Linked DNA regions of Homo sapiens: all the other regions are linked to region 2. The links come from fine-mapping of genetic effects on gene expression. A gene starts in region 2. Each other region holds a variant in brackets. All regions are shown on one strand. Distances are between the middles of the regions.

Region 1 (5,227 bases), 66 kb after region 2:
AGATCAGAGTAACTGGGATATCCATCACTTCATACTTTTATCTTTATATTGGCAACATAATTTTCTAGCTATTTTGAAATAATACAATAAATGATTGTTAACTATAATTTTTCCTACTGTACTACTGAATACCAGAACTTATTCCTTCTATCTAACTGTATTTTTATACACACTAACCAGCTTCTCATTACTCCCTTCCCTCTTGCCTTCCTAGCCTCTGGTGAGCACCATTCTAATCCCTACCTCCATGAGATCCACTTTTTAAGCTGCTACATATGAGTGAGAACCAGCAATATTTGTCTTTCTGTGCCTGGCTTATTTCACCTAACATAATGACCTCTAGTTCCATCTATGTCACTGTGAATGACAGGATTTCATTCTTTTTTATGGTTAAATAATATTCCATTGTGTATATATACCACACTTTCTCACTTTCTTTATTCATTTGTTGCTGGACACTTAGGTTGATATTATGTGTTGGCTATTGTGAATACCACTGCAGTAAACATGAGAGTTCAGATATCTCTTTGATACAGTGATTTCCTTTCTTTTGGACATACACCTGGCAGTAGGATGGCTCAATCAAATGGTAGTTCTATTTTTAGTTTTTTGAGGAACTTTCATACTTTTTTCCATAATGGCATTCCTACTTTATATTCCCACGAACAGCCTATGAGTTTTCCCATTTCTCCACATCCTGACCAGTATTTGTAATTTTTTGTCTTTTTAACAGTAGCCATTTTAACGGCAGTAGGATATCTCAGTGCAGTTTTGATTTGCGTTTCCGTGATGATTAATGATGTTGAACATTTTGTCAGACACCTGTTGGCCATTTGTATGTCTTTTGAGAACTGTCTGTTCTCTTTTGCCTATTCTTTAATCAGATTATTTGTTTTTTTGCTATTGAGTTGTTTTTGTTCCTTATATATTCTGGTTATTAACTTTTGTGAGATGGATAGTTGGGAATTTTTTCTCCCATTCTGTAGGTTGTCTCTTCACTTTGTTGATTGTTCCCTGTGCTATGCATTGAAAAGTCTTTCCATATTGCTTTTATTTTAAGATTAAGGCCAATTTTTACTTCACATTAATTTTAGGTTCCCTTAGCCATTTTTTCAGTTTTTAAAACTGGATATTTTATTGAAATGTTTTTTACTAAAATGCATTAGACTTATATTACAAATGCTATATTGGATTAGGTTGATGATTGATCTCAGAGCAATTTAACTCTGATAATGTCTAGGAAACATTACAGATGAATTTGTTTACATCATTCACTTCTCCTAATTACTAATTATGGGATTATTTTCTATGTATAATCCCTTTTTGATCTCAAAGAATTATAGAATTTTACCACTGAAAATAACCTTATATACTCATTTATTCCACAAACATTTTAGTGTCTGCTGTGTGCCAGGCATTGTTCTAAGTGCTGATGATGTAGGAATAAATGAAGAAAAAAATGCTGTCACTGTGGAGTTTATATTCTAATTGAGAAACAGATTATAAATGAGAAATAAGTTGAATAAATAAGTGATAAATCAGTAGAGAAAAATAAAGTTTTGAGTAGGGAGTGTTGTGACTGGGGATTCACTTTTTAATCAGCAGTGACCAGAGAAAGCTTCATTGAAAGGGTGCATTGAAGGCCGGGCATGGTGGCTCACACCTGTAATCCCAGCGCTCTGGGAAACCAAGGCGGGCGAATCACCTGAGTTCGGGAGTTTGAGACCAGCCTGACCAACATAGAGAAACCCCATCTCTACTAAAAATACAAAATTAGCCAGCCGTGGTGGCGCATGCCTGTAATCCCAGCTACTTGAGAGACTGAGGCAGGAGAATCGCTTGAACCTGGAGGCGGAGGTTACAGTGAGCCGAGATCGCACCATTGCACTCCAGCCTGGGTGACAAGAGCGAAACTCCGTCTCAAAAAAAAAAAAAAAGATTAGTTTTTAATGCAGATCTTTCAGAGAACTCAAGATAGGTACTTATATATCCAGTTATTCTTTATAAATATTCAGGTTTATATTAGTTTTTTTTTTTTTTTTTGGAGACAGAGTTTTGCTCTTGTTGCCCAGGCTGGAGTGCAGTGGTGCAACTTCGCCTCACTGTAACCTCCACCTCCCAGGTTCAAGTGATTCTCTTGCCTCAGCCTCCCGAGTAGCTGGGACTTCAGGCATGCACGACCATGCCCAGCTAATTTTTTATTTTTGGTAGAGATGGGGTTTTTCCATGTTGGTTAGGCTGGTCTCAAACTCCCGACCTCAGGTGATCCGCCCACCTCGGCGTCCCAAAGTGCTGGGATTACAGGCGTGAGCCACCGTGCCTGGTCTCTATTAGTTTTTAAGCTTCCTAATTCAGATCTTTGCCAGTTGCTAAAATATTGTCCAGGAAACCATTAGATAGCTATTCAGGTTACCTTGGGAGCTCTGGCTACTCTCTTGAATGCTAAAACGTCTTTTTGTTATTTGGCAGATACAGACGGATTATATTGAGAACCTTATGACATTGGTTGTCAGTAAACCCTTTTTAGTGAGAGTTCAGGCAT[C/G]TGTTAGGAGAATAGACTCTACCCTTCAAGTCTACTTTAGAACTAGAAGTATCGAGTTGGTTATAACTGTCATATATTTGTTCATGCTTTGGGGGCCCAGTTGAAGGCATGTGTTTAAAGTGCCATTATGAAATCCATCTTCAGCTACTTGCCTTTTTTTTTTTGGTATCCTGTGATTTCTCTGAAAATTAAAGTAGCATGAAATCATATAATAGAATGAATAAATGAAAGTTTAAAAAGATTAATATTATTGTAAAACTTTTTCAGGCTCTATAGAAAATGGAAGCTATAAATGCTTTATAAGTTCTTTTCATATCAGCAATGTGTGGTTTCATTTTACATGCTTGATTTTATTGCCAATTTATATATAGTCCTTTGAACATAGAATTGATTTGTATCCAAAATTGTTTGATGTAACAGCTGTTATATCAACAAGAAATTCTGATTTTTGTTCTTCAACATGATTCATACTTCATTCTAGACATGAAAATAAACCGTATGTTCCTAGTTCAGCACAAATGACAAGAAGGAAATTCCAAAAGGCTAAGCCAAATTTGGGAAGAGCACACAGTAAGAAAGAGGAACCAGTTTTAGAAAAAGTCACAACAGATCAGAGCAAGGAAGGCAAGCCAGAAGATCATTTGCTGCAGAAAGGAGCTTCCAACACCCAGCTCCTTCTAAAAGTAAGTTTGGGCAAAAAAAAAAAAAAAATTTTTTTTCTCAATGAGGTCTGTTTTGTCAAGATCATGAAGAGCATGAGTAAAATACAGTTTTGACTTCTGTACTGTAACCATTTTCATGAAAAGTGACTTTCTAGTGTTGTAAAAGATGAGCAACCAACTGCTTGTAGATATGTGTAAACTTAGAGGTTTAGGCCAAACTACCAAACCAAATTAACATAGAGATTGTTTCTGTAGTAATACTAGCTAATTTCTTCTTAAATTTAAGGAAAAAGCTGAGCTTCTGACATCTCTGGAGGTTTCAGCAAGAAAAGATTGTGTAGGTTCCAAAGAGTCTGCTTTGGCAAAAATAGATGCGGAATTAGAAGAAGTTGGACCATCAAGAAGGGTTGGAGAGGAAACTGTAGGAGATAATTCACCATCTTCAGTTGTTGAAGAGCAATATCTCAATAAACTAACAAGGTAACATTTTATTTAACAAAATGTTTCACAATAAGAAATAAAAATCACTTAACTTTTACCTTAACTTACTGGTAGAACAAAATTTTTGGGTGTTGAGTCCATTAGACATGGGTAGAAACTTGACCAAAGAGGAGTATGTATGTATTAGCTAAGTAATTAAGGTGCTCATTCAAATGGAGTCACAAACACAAATAAAGAATACCCTACTTCTATAGTTTTCAAAGAAAATGGAAAGAAACTTAAGTTCTAGAAACCAGCACTGCTCTAGTGGATTTCTGCTGCCTCCTTTTTCTTTTAACCTATCTGTTTACCCAGTAGGATAAACTAATACCACATTTGATCTCATATTCTGTATTTATTGGTCCTGTGTCTTTTTTTGTTTTTGAGACAGTTTCACTCTTCTCGCGCAGGCTGGAGTACAATTGCGTGACTCGGCTCACTGCAACCTCCACCTCCCAGGTACAAGTGATTCTCCTGCCTCATCCTCCCGAGTAGCTGGGATTACAGGCGTGCACCACCGTGCCCAGCTAATTTTTGTATTTTTAGTGGAGATCAGGTTTCACCATGTTGGCCAGGCTGGTCTTGAACTCCTGACCTCAAGTGATCTGCCTGCCTCGTCCTCCCAAAGTGCTGGGAGTAGAGGCGTGAGCTACTGCGCCCAGCCGGTTCTGTGTCTTTTATCCCTTTTTCTTCTAATAATTTTCAGTTTTGTGTTTATTTTATCTTCACTTTCATATTACAGGAAAGAATGGTCCAGAATTAAAAACTTACTATGAAAAATTTGTAGGTAGATAACTAAGAATTAACTCTGAGTGAGAAACTAGTAGTTAATTCCTTTTTTATTTTCACAGCATAAGATTTTAAAAGAATGGGTGGTGGGAATTTTCATTTTAATGACTGGAACTGGAATTTCACTCTAAAAGTTTGGTTTTCATTAAAATTATCCTTGCATGCATATGACCTTATTGTTGTTTTGATTAAATATCTAGCTGTCCACAACCGTTAAACGAAACAAGTTACTCTAAAATTGCCCTGGATGGGAAAACAACTATCTCTTCTACATCTGAGTATGAGAGAAATCGTGGTGAAAGGAGAAGTCATAAAAAGTTCAAACCAAATGTCACCAGAGGTCGTGGATCAAAACGAGTTCGGGGTAAGACCTCTAAGAAGGAACCTAGAGCTTCCAAGGCCATGCTGGTGACTCTTCGGGCTTCCCAGGAAGAAGATGATGATGCTGACGATTTTGAGTCTGACTATGAGGAAGAAAGCTATCATCTTGCTCCCGAAGAAGTAAACAAAGCTCCAGTATTTGTACCTGTTGGTCTCAGATCTCCTGAACCTGTTTCTGCTCAGATTGAGGAAACAATGGAAGAGGTTCGGTTTTTTTTTAAAACCTTGGTACTTTATCTTACTTGGTTTTCACCTCTTGTTTCTTTTAGGGGATCATTATTTCTTCTCGTAGTGATTATTAGGATTTGAAGAGTTCATTCTCTAAATAACCTCTACCAAATATAATTTGGGGCCTTGTATAACCTTTTGTGAT
Region 2 (5,227 bases):
GACTTTATATTTAATAATAAAATTTAATCTGATTCTGTTCCCATCCCTTTACTGGTGGGAAATTAAATCTTAGTCACTATTTACTTTCTGACCTGTAAAAACTTGGGACAATGCCCTAGTCTCTTAAGTGGAACAGAAGACCATCTGGGGAAAGGCCCTGTGTCTTCAGTTGGTATCAGAATATGCTGTTCAAAGCTGTGTAGACCTGGCAGTGGCTCCAAGATTCCTGAGACATCTTTAGCAGGGTATTCTCTCGAATTCTTGAGCTTCTTTAAATAAAGAAGATAAAACTGAGATACTGTTCCTTTTCCAGAGTATTGCAGGGAGCCCACGGAATCCACAGACCTCCTCTTTTCTCTTCCTTCCTTCCTTCCTTTCTTTCTCTCTCTCTTTTTTTTTTTTTTTTTGAGACAGGGTCTCACTTTGTCACCCAGGCTGTAGTGCTGTGGTGTGATCTTGGCTCACTGCAACTTCCGCCTCCTGGGCTCAAGCAATCCTCCAACCTCAGCCTCCTGAGTAGCTGGGATTACAGGCAGAAGCCACCATGCTCAGCTAATTTTTGTAATTTTGGTAGAGATGAGGTTTCACCATGTTGGCTAGGCTGGTCTTAAACTCCTAGGCTCAAGTGATTCGCCTGCCTCAACCTCCCAAAGTGCTGGGATTACAGGCACGAGCTGTGCCTGGCCTCCAGACCTTCATTTTCTTCATAGTCTTAGAGATATATGTTTTCTCTTCTCTGCTTTCAGTCTTGCCTTCCTACTCTCAAAAGCACTTGCCTCTTTTTTGTTCTCCCTTTAGGTGATCAATTTCTTCAGTCAGTTCAGAATTTTATTCCTTTGACCTTTTGTTATTAATGTATCACCATATTCTTGTAGGATTTTCTTTTCCTTCTAAGAAGAAAGTCAGGCCTTTGTGTTCCCATGAGTCAGGGGATTTGTATCACTGGTTCAAACATTGGCCCAATACCTCCAAGGCCAACCTCAGCTCTGGCTATTTTTCCTCTCATCATAGAGGACTTCCCTAGCCACTCTACTGCCAGCCTCCCTCCCATTACTTTCTATCACATCATCCTGTACATTTCTCTCTTTTTTTTCTTCTTATTATTAAATTTTTGTTTTAAGGACAAGGTTTCACTTTGTCACCCATGCTGGAGGGCAGTGGCACTATCATAGCTCACTGCAGCCTGGACCTCCTGCCTCAGCCTTCCAGGTAGCTGGAGCTAGAGGTGGGAGCCATCACAGCCACCGCATGTAGGTAATTTGTTTTAGGGGTCTCAATATTTTGAGCAGGTTGGTCTGGAAGTCTTGGGCTCAAGAGATCCTCCCACTTCAGTCTCCACAGTAGCTGGGATTATAGGCGTGCCTCGCCATACCCGGCATTCAACCCTTAAATTTATTTCATGACATTTGATATACTTTATTTTATTGCAATTAATTAATTAATTCATTTATTTTAAGACAGAGTCTCACTCATTCTGTTGCCTAGGCTAGAGTGCAGTGGTGCCATCTTGGCTCCCGGCAGCCTCCACCTCCAGGGTTCAAGCCATTCTCCTGTCTCAGCCTCCCATAGCTGGGATTACAGGCTTGCACCACCAGGCCTGGCTCATTTTTGTATTTTTAGTAGAGATGGAGTTTAACCATGTTGGCCAGGCTGGTCTCGAACTCCTGACCTCAAGCAATCTGCCTTGCCTTAGCCTCCTAAAATGCTGGGATTACAGGCATGAGGCACCCACGCCGGGCCTGATACATTTTAAAAATATCTTGTTCATTTCTTTTTTGTATTTTCTCCTCCCAAATCCAGAACGTCTTGTTTACTGCTACCTCCTGAAGCAGATTAAGAACACTCACAATAATTTACAAGGTTTCAACTATAATAATTTTTAAACAGGCTGGAGTGTAGTGGTACGATCTCGGGTGATACATTCATATTAAAAAGTACACAAGGAGGTTGGGCGTGGTGGCTCACGTCTGTAATCCCAGCACTTTGGGAGGCCAAATGGGTGGCTCGCTTGAGCCTAGGAGTTCAAGATCAGCCTAAGCAACATGATGAACCCCGTCTCTACTAAATATACGAGAAAAAAAAAATTAGCCGGGTGTCGTGGCGCGTGCCTGTGGTCCCAGCAACTTGGGAGGCTGTGACGGGAGGATCGCCTGAGCCCGAGAGGTGGAGGCTGCAGTGAGCCAAGATCGCGCAACTGCACACTCCAGCCTAGGCGACAGAGCAAGACCCTGTCTCAAAGGACAAAAACAAAAAAGTACACAAAGGCGTACGGTAAATGGTCTTCCTACCACGACGTGTTTTCCAGAAACACATTCCTCTCCTGGGAGGTAACTATTATCAGTTTCTTCACACCAGCATTTTTAATCTATGTCTACTCAATTTAGAATTTCTAAACCCTTCAGGATCTTCAAAAGACAAAATCGGCCAGCGATTTTAATAGTTCCAGTAAAGGTTTGAGCAGAGAAGTGGACTTTCTTCTGTTCCTCTTTTCAACTACTCCTAAGGACTCCTGGAGAAGAAAGAGCAAATATCTCTGCATCTCAATTTCTGGTCCGCAGGTAACCCAGTCTCAGTAGCTTGGTAGTTACCATGGCTCCCAGTGCTGTGCGTCTGACGTCATTCTGCGGCGCTGGCTGATGGCGCAATCAGTTGCGGCGTCCTGTGAGCGCGGGGATGCTGGGAGGAGGGTGAAATTTAGCCATCGGTGTGTGGCAGGGTCATGAAAAAGCGGCGGCGGCGGGAGAGAGGAGGAGGCGGCGGCGGGGCAGTGAAACTACGGTAGCTGCCCCCTGAGCTGGTGGTGTGGCTTTGTGGGGAGGGCGTAGTTCCTAATCCCCTTTCCGGGCAGCCGCCGGGGCTCGGGGCTGTGAGCGGCCGTGAGGCTGCCTCCCCGGGCCCCCTGCCTCCGCCATGTTCCGCAGGGCACGCCTTAGCGTGAAGCCGAATGTCAGGCCTGGTGTAGGCGCCAGGGGCTCCACAGCTTCCAATCCCCAGCGTGGACGGGAGTCTCCCAGGCCGCCGGATCCTGCCACGGACTCTGCTTCCAAGCCCGCGGAGCCCACAGATGTGCCCACAGTCGATTTCGGTGGAGCGGAGCCCCAAGAAAAGGCTCCTAGGAGCAGGTAAGAGGTTGCAGAGGGAAGAATTTTCATTTGTCCCGCCTCTCCGGGCATGTCACCTGGAAGCTGAGCAAATGAATTTTATCACAGGAGTCCGCTCTCGTTTGCAGTAAGCCTTTCAGTTGAGGCTTGATGAAACCACTCCAAACTGCAGTTTAGTTGTCTGACCTGCAGGGTGTGGCTTGTGTGGATTTTGTCACGGTCTATAGATTCTCCGAGAGGAGACCATGTCTTCAAGTGGTGGTAGGGAGAATCGGGGTATGGCAGTCCTGAAGTGAAGAATATCCACACTATTCATTTGAGAATTTAGGTCACTATAGTTTTCATCCTTCTGGAGTGCTTTGCAGGGAAGTGTTTTTGTCTTTCAATTTATAAAATATTTATTTTTTAAAGGAGAAGATAAGTATTGCTTTGGCTTTACCGATTTATGTCAGTGAGTAAGAGTTCTGGTCACTTAATTGAAGTGTGCCTCTTTAACTATGGTGACCGTGTTTCCTGAATAGAGAAGCATGGCTTTAGCGTCATGTATCATATTTGGATTCAGGACTCTTTTAGTCTACAGGTAAACTTTTCTCAGGCAGAATTTGCTCATCTGCAAAATGGGAATAATATTGCCTACTTGGAGCGTTTTGGTGCAGATTGGAGATAATTCATATTAACTACCTTGCAGGGGATATAGCAGAATAGTTGCCCGCAAAAAGTTACTAGTTTTTTAGAAAGGTGATGGAGTAAATTTAAGACATGTTAGGCTAAGATGGTCTCTGTTTCTATATATATGAGGAAATCAGTAAACAGCCTTGTTAAGTGAAGTGAGATAGTACAAATTCTGTTTATGCTGTGATAGGAAGGTGAAACATTTATTTATTTTTGGAACATCTTCCTCTATTGGCCTGAACTGGTGCTGAGTGTATGGTGTTACGTTGATAGTTCAGTGATGGTTAGTAATTTCCAAGTTTATTACATGAATCTGTTTCAAAATTTCTACACAGAAAGGAGATACCGATACTAGTCGCTGTTACATTAATAAAGTTCTCAGAGATTTCGTTAATTATGTGTGAGTGCGTGATGGTTGATAATTTAATAAATTGCCCAAAGATTGTAGTTTTGAGATATTTATGGTCAAGGATATTTAATTTTTTTTTTTGAGTTGACATTTACGTTTGGGGAATATAATTTGTTTTTTAGTCACTTTTTTTGCCATTACTGACTCTGGGAAAGTGGTTTTTTTTTTTTTTTTTAATTAGTTTTTTTTTTAGATGGAGTCTTGCTCTGTCGCCCAGGCTGAAGTGCAGTGGTACGGCTCACTGCAACCTCCACCTCCCGGGTTCTTGCAATTCTCCTGTCTCAGGCTCCCAAGTATCTGGGACTACAGGCGTGCCCCACCACGCCCAACTAATTTTTGTATTTTCAGTAGAGACAGGGTTTCACCATGTTGGCCAGGCTGGACTCGAACTCCTGACCTCAAGTGATCCACCTGCCTCAGCCCAAAGTGCTGGGGTTACAGGTGTGAGCCACCGTGCCCAGCCTCTTTTTATTTTTTTGTGGGTCTTTGCTAGTTGTAAAACTCTATAGGATATATATTCTGTCATTATGCATTCAACATAATTGGGTGAAATGCAGATAATGCATGTATCCATAACAGCTAAGATACGAATTTAAATTGAAGTCTTCCTGGAAAGGTTATTCTATAAGTTAAGGCATTTTCTAATTTTTTATAAGTAATTATAAAATAGGAAAAAAGTAGACTGTTTTTAATTATTGACTTATACCACCTCTTTTCTTGACTTAAGTTGCATTTATAGACCATTCCTGAAATACTTATATCTGAGGTATACCATACCTAATATGCAATTTGGGGTGACTGAGTACTTTTTTTGACTGAAGTTTATTCTGATGGCTGTATAAGTAGAGTTGTACCTGACAAAAGATAAATGATTTCTGCCTCAAAGGGAATTGGGTTTGGCTACTGTAACTAAATGTTTTTCTTCAAATACTGCAATACAGATATTTCAGAGGTTTGGAGTTTTGCATATTTGATTTGACTGACCTCGGGTTGATAAGTAAAGTAAAATGCCGGTAGTTTAGACCAGTTTAAAATGTCAGAGTGA
Region 3 (5,227 bases), 360 kb after region 2:
AACTTGTGTCTTGGGGGTCTGTTTTACCAATTATTTCATCATCCAGTTATTAAGCCTAGTACCCATTACTTATTTTTCCTGATCCTCTCATTTGAACTTTGAAAGCCAGAATTCAGGAAAAACTTGGTCCATATTTATTTTAAATGCAGATTCTCAGGTCCCACCCCTGCCATCAGAAAAAGAGTCTCAGGCTGGGCTTGAGATTACCTCTCTAGGTAATCTTAATGTGCGTTAAAGTCAAATAAACACTATTTTATGTCATTTTTGTTACTGAATAAGATGTGATGTGATTTCAAGCACATCCCTAGAGAGTATTAAATGGAGGATTCAGGGAAATTAGGTATCTGGGTGACTCAAATGTTTTATATTAAAATGTGTAATGCATCTTATTTGCTAGCCATGGTTCATTTATATGGTCTCATGATCCTCACTTCCTAGTACTTTTTAGGTACAGCATACTGAATATGTGCTTGAATCTTTAAACCAATATCATCAGCTCCAGAGTAAGTGTTGGGAGTCACACTGGGAGACTTTGGAAGTGCTAAAATGGGATTTCAGTTTGACTGAGAAGCTCCTTGGATTTTCCAAGGTGAATTTTTTTCCGCTTCCAGTTTAGATTAACTTGCTCTCAATTTTTATAATAGAAAGATCACAGAGAACTGACTCTTTCCTACAGCTGTTAAAGATAGCTAATTAGGATAGGTGTGAACTGGTAGCTCATTAGCCCCTTTGAGTTTCCCAGCTGCAAAGGTCAGGGCAGACTAGCTACTATCACAGGGTCAGAGTGTGAATGGCAGCTGGTCAGGAAAGATAAATATGACAAGATGTGGAGCAAAGCAAGGTTATTATTACAAAAGGTGTCACCCAGATAATAGTGGAACTTAACCAGTGAAAAATCACTCAAATCATGACCCAGCCCAAAAGGAAAATAACCCCTATGCTTCCAGAATTTATTGCAGCATTGTGATTGTTTGCCCGTTAACATTTCACTTGTGGAATGAAATAGTTGGGAATGCTGACTATAAAATGAAATTGTTTCTTAATTCTTCTCAAAGTATTCTAAGCATTATGGAATGACCAGTTTATTAGGTCTCTGGGGAAATAAATATGACTTACATCCTCTTTGAAATGTAGACCCCACCATTCTCTTTTTCTTCTCTCTCCCTCTCATGCGTGCGCTTACTCTGTTTTTATCTCTTTTTCTATGTCTCCCCAAGCTCATGAATAATGTTCTTAGGAATCATTGAAGAACCATGCTAATGAGGACTTGAATTTCCAGTACTTTACACAATGTAGCATATTCTTGTTGACAGTACATCTCTACTGTGGCTCTATTTGGAAAGAATGCCTTATTCCAGGAAGAAGGTCTTCATGAACCTCTGGAACTTCATCTTCCATTTTATCATTTCACCACTTCATGAGATGGAATACTGCAGTTGTTCAGATCAAAATATCATATGGCCAGCGTCGTCCACCATGCAATCTCATTCAACTTTCATTAAAGTATCACAATAGCACAGAAAATGAAGACAGAGAAAATAGGGAAATTCTGCCTTAAAAAGAATAAAAATGGATGACACATGCCAGATTTTTGGAGGAATCTCTGCTCATCATGTGAGAGACAAATGGAGTAGATTTGAGGAATGCCTTATGGCACACCCAGGTTTTAGGTCACACAAGAGTGACACAGGAAAAATGTAGAGTCTAGACCTTCTCTGTTCTTTACTCCCTCAGGCAGAAACCCAAGGTTTGTGTCCATCAGAATATAGTGTAGCTGCCTTATCTTGCAGGTGTTGACCCATTAAGTGGCCAAGTACTCTTTTCCCATCACTTCCGCAGCCCATTACCTCATTTTTCTGCATGTATAAGAGGGAGCAATCCCAGACAACAGTGGGAGGAATTAGGAGTGTGTTGTTGATTAGAGATTGTTTATATTTTGGGCCACGCATGATGGCTCACACCTGTAATCCCAGCACTTTGGGAGGCCAAGGTGGACGGATCCCTTGAGTCCAGGAATTTGAGAACACCCTGGGCAAGGTTAAGGTCTCCCAGCATGGGAGACCCCATCTCTACTAAAAATACAAAAAAATTAGCTGGGTGTGGTGGCACATGCCCGTAGTCCCAGCTACTTGGGGGCTGAGGTGGGAGGATCACCTGAGCCGGGGCTGTAGTGAGCCGAGATCACATCATTGCGCTCCAGTCTGGGTGGTGGGAGTGAGACTTGGGAGAGAGAGAGAGAGAGAGAGACTGTCTGTATTTTTGTAGGAGTAATGTCTTACCTTGGTTTGGGTTTTCCCAGCAGCAGACATTGAGACAGTAAAGCCAATCACTTTTTTGTGAGGTGGGGGATGGAGGAAGGATCACAAAAGGTGTGGCAGGGAAGAAATGACCCAGGGGGAGAGGGCAGCAAATAATGGTTCTTACAAAACAAGTTACTGCTAAGGTAATCAGAGTTTAATCTCTCTGAGGAACACTGAGTGGTCGTCTAAAACATGGGCCTTGGAGTTATCCCACCTAGGAAGTGAGGGAACTGGGATATTTATACTCCAGTTGCCATCAGTTATTAATCAAAG[G/A]CTGCTCCTGGGGCCACGGTGTAATTTCCCTGGCACATCTGGCCTGCTGTGCACAGGAGCAGAGTAGCTCTGTAGGTCAGAGGAAACCCCCAGGCAAATGAATCTAGGCGCTGACAGGTAGAAGGTTAGTGTGCTCTGCAGTGTTAAGGGTGAGGGGCTCTGGGCAGGGCACTGACAGTGTCAACTGCAGTCAAGACCTTGTTCCACTCAGATCCACCTGTGTCCTGTGTTAGGCTTACTCTATCCTATCACTGCTTCTTCAAGGTCACAAATAAACATTAAAAAAAAAAAAAAAAGACAACAGGAGCATTAGTGGGCCAGGATCTCACTGTCTACTGCTGCAGTCTTTCCCACGATGTTCATTGATCAGCTCTCTTCTATTCTACCCTTTGTAGACCCTCCAGCCCCTTGGCCAGCATTTCTACTGGTTTAGATTGCTTACCTTATGGAATAACGCAGACCTTTTTCTCTGAGAGGTCTAAGTCCCAGATTAGGAGGGATTTTTTTTTTTCGATGCAATCCTATGTCCTGGCAGGTCTGATATTATCCATGCCATAGAAGGCAGTGCTGGTTGCACAGTCACTTGATGTCCCAAGCTCAGGTACTCAGTCATTTCATGGCCACAGCAGCACTCAGGAGCTGCTTTCTGAATGAAGAGTTGTCTTTTGTGGGTGTCATGGACTTGCTCTAGACCTCTGGGGCTCTCATTGTGGTTCTCCCATTGAGGCTTGTCAAAGATTCTAGTGAGTCTAGCAGCATGGAATCTTCTGGGTCACAGAGCTAAACACTAGAGTTACTTGTGCCACAACCTGGACCAGTTCCAGTGCCCTCACTTGCTCCATGCCTACTCTATTAGTTTGCTTGGGGTGCCATAACAAAATACCACACACTGGGTGGCTTAAACAGCAAAAACCTGTCCAGTTCTGGAGGCTGGACGGTCTGAGGTCTAGGTGTCAGCAGGTCTGGTCTCTTTGGAGGCCTCTCCCTGGCTTGCAGATGGCCCGCCTTCTTGCTGTGCCCTCTCGGGGACTTTCCTCTGTGCGTCAGCTTCTTGGCACTTCCTTGTGTGTCCAGGTTTCCTCTTCTTATAAGAACACTAGTCAGACTGGATTAGAACTCATTTTAATGAACTTATTTTAACTAATTCATCTCTTAAAGGCCCTATCTCCAAATATACTCACATTCTGAGGTACTGGAGGTTAGGGTTTTGACGGATACATTTTGCAGGGACGCATTTGACCCATAATACCCACTCAAAACCAGAAGTGTTCTGACTCACTACTAAATGAGTTGAAGCAGTATTCACAAGTGTGGTGGATATGGTCTCCCAAATCTGAAGAGGTCCACTGGGCATTGTACCACTTTCTTAGTGGTAGGAGGTAGAAAGTGCACACATTTGTTCGCCCCTTGGAGGAGTGACCTGGCATGTCTCAAACCACGGGGCCCCTGAAAGCTTTATTGACCGCAGCAAAGCCTTGATTGTGTGTAAGCTTCCTCTTCCACTCTCTGATCCAGATATACCTGACCAGAATGCTTACCATTCCTGTCCCCCAGGCACAATTAAATGATGTTGCCAGCACAGTGAAACCTTGAGATTTCCTATAGAATATCCCGATGATCCCAATCCCGTTAAGCTTTATTGCAATCTAGCCATGAGGGCATGACAGTGAATGTATGTATCTGTCTGTTCTAAGTGACAGCAAACTGCTTTTGATGCTCCTTTCTAGAAGGGATTGAAGAGAATGCATTTTCCAATTTAGTAGTGTTACACCAAGTACCAGAGACCATGTTGATCTGCTGTAGTAAAAATACTGCATCTGGAACAGCAGTTGTGGTTGGGGTTAATACTTGGTCATGATAGTCCACCATAAAATGCATGACCCAACTGGCTTTTTCTAGAAGACAGACTGGTACACTAAATGGGGATACGAAGGGACTGCCATCCTAGCCTCCTTTATGTCTTTGAGGGTAGCCCCAATCTCTGCCATTCTTCCTGTGATGAAGCATTGCTTCTCATTTTCTTGTCAGGGCAGAGGGGGGCAATTTCAAGGTTTTCACCAGGCTTTTCCTATAATACCTCAGTGAAGAGACACCACACATGCTATTTTAACAGAAAGGACTTAATGTAAGGAATTATTAAGTAGTTATTTAAAAACTGGAAAGGCAAAGAGAGAACACTAAGATATCTCAGCTACCACGCTTACACCTGGGGGAACAAGGGAAGAAGTTGGAATTATTGATAGGTAAAAGCTTGCAGTAGAAGCTGAATCTCAGACCTCTGAAAGGGGACCACTGCTCAGCTTATGTTGATGACTCTGAGCTCAGAGGAGGCATCCCCTGGGGCTGTGACCCAGAACTCTGAGGAAAAGGTCCTGGTCAGCTGTGCTGGTGTTTCTGGGGACCATGGTGAGACTGGTCCTGCCAGTGTTGGAAATCCTGCAAACTGAATGCATGCTGTGACTGCAAATGCCGAGGGGAGCAGTGAGACTGAGGTGCTGTGACAAGAACACGAAGTACACGTCTTCTTATTCCTCAAGTTTCCCGTATTGGAAGAGCTGAATGTAGAGCCAGCTGGCAAAGCAGAAATGTGGCTTTCCGAGCCGCAGCCCCAGCATCACAAAGCAGAACATAGAAGTGTGTGTGTGGGAGGCAGA

Alleles and levels. Positions count from the first base shown, and alleles are read on the strand shown. Sizes are in standard deviations (SD) of each study's normalised expression. Not every link is listed here.
For the expression in subcutaneous fat of the gene that starts at base 2,684 in region 2, allele G in region 3 goes with a lower level than allele A (large effect, 0.82 SD a copy in FUSION).

The links. PIP is the estimated chance that this variant, and not a neighbour inherited with it, causes the effect.
Region 1: its variant is the best candidate, but not a certain one, in a credible set for the expression of BDP1 in whole blood (INTERVAL, PIP 0.80).
Region 3: its variant is the best candidate, but not a certain one, in a credible set for the expression of BDP1 in subcutaneous fat (FUSION, PIP 0.61).

What each region holds. Positions count from the first base shown.
Region 1 is chr5:71,519,266-71,524,492 of GRCh38, forward strand. BDP1 (BDP1 general transcription factor IIIB subunit) reads left to right here. Exons shown (of 39, transcript NM_018429.3): 23 at 3,024-3,225; 24 at 3,491-3,684; 25 at 4,674-5,058. Among named protein-coding and RNA genes, the nearest start is that of MCCC2, 65 kb to the right of the region's middle. The variant C/G (reference allele first, on the strand shown) is at 2,543.
Region 2 is chr5:71,452,968-71,458,194 of GRCh38, forward strand. BDP1 (BDP1 general transcription factor IIIB subunit) reads left to right here and starts at 2,684. Exons shown (of 39, transcript NM_018429.3): 1 at 2,684-3,122. The coding sequence starts at 2,911. RefSeq lists enhancers at 1,619-2,545, 2,546-3,471.
Region 3 is chr5:71,812,925-71,818,151 of GRCh38, forward strand. No RefSeq gene overlaps it. Among named protein-coding and RNA genes, the nearest start is that of CARTPT, 96 kb to the left of the region's middle. The variant G/A (reference allele first, on the strand shown) is at 2,574.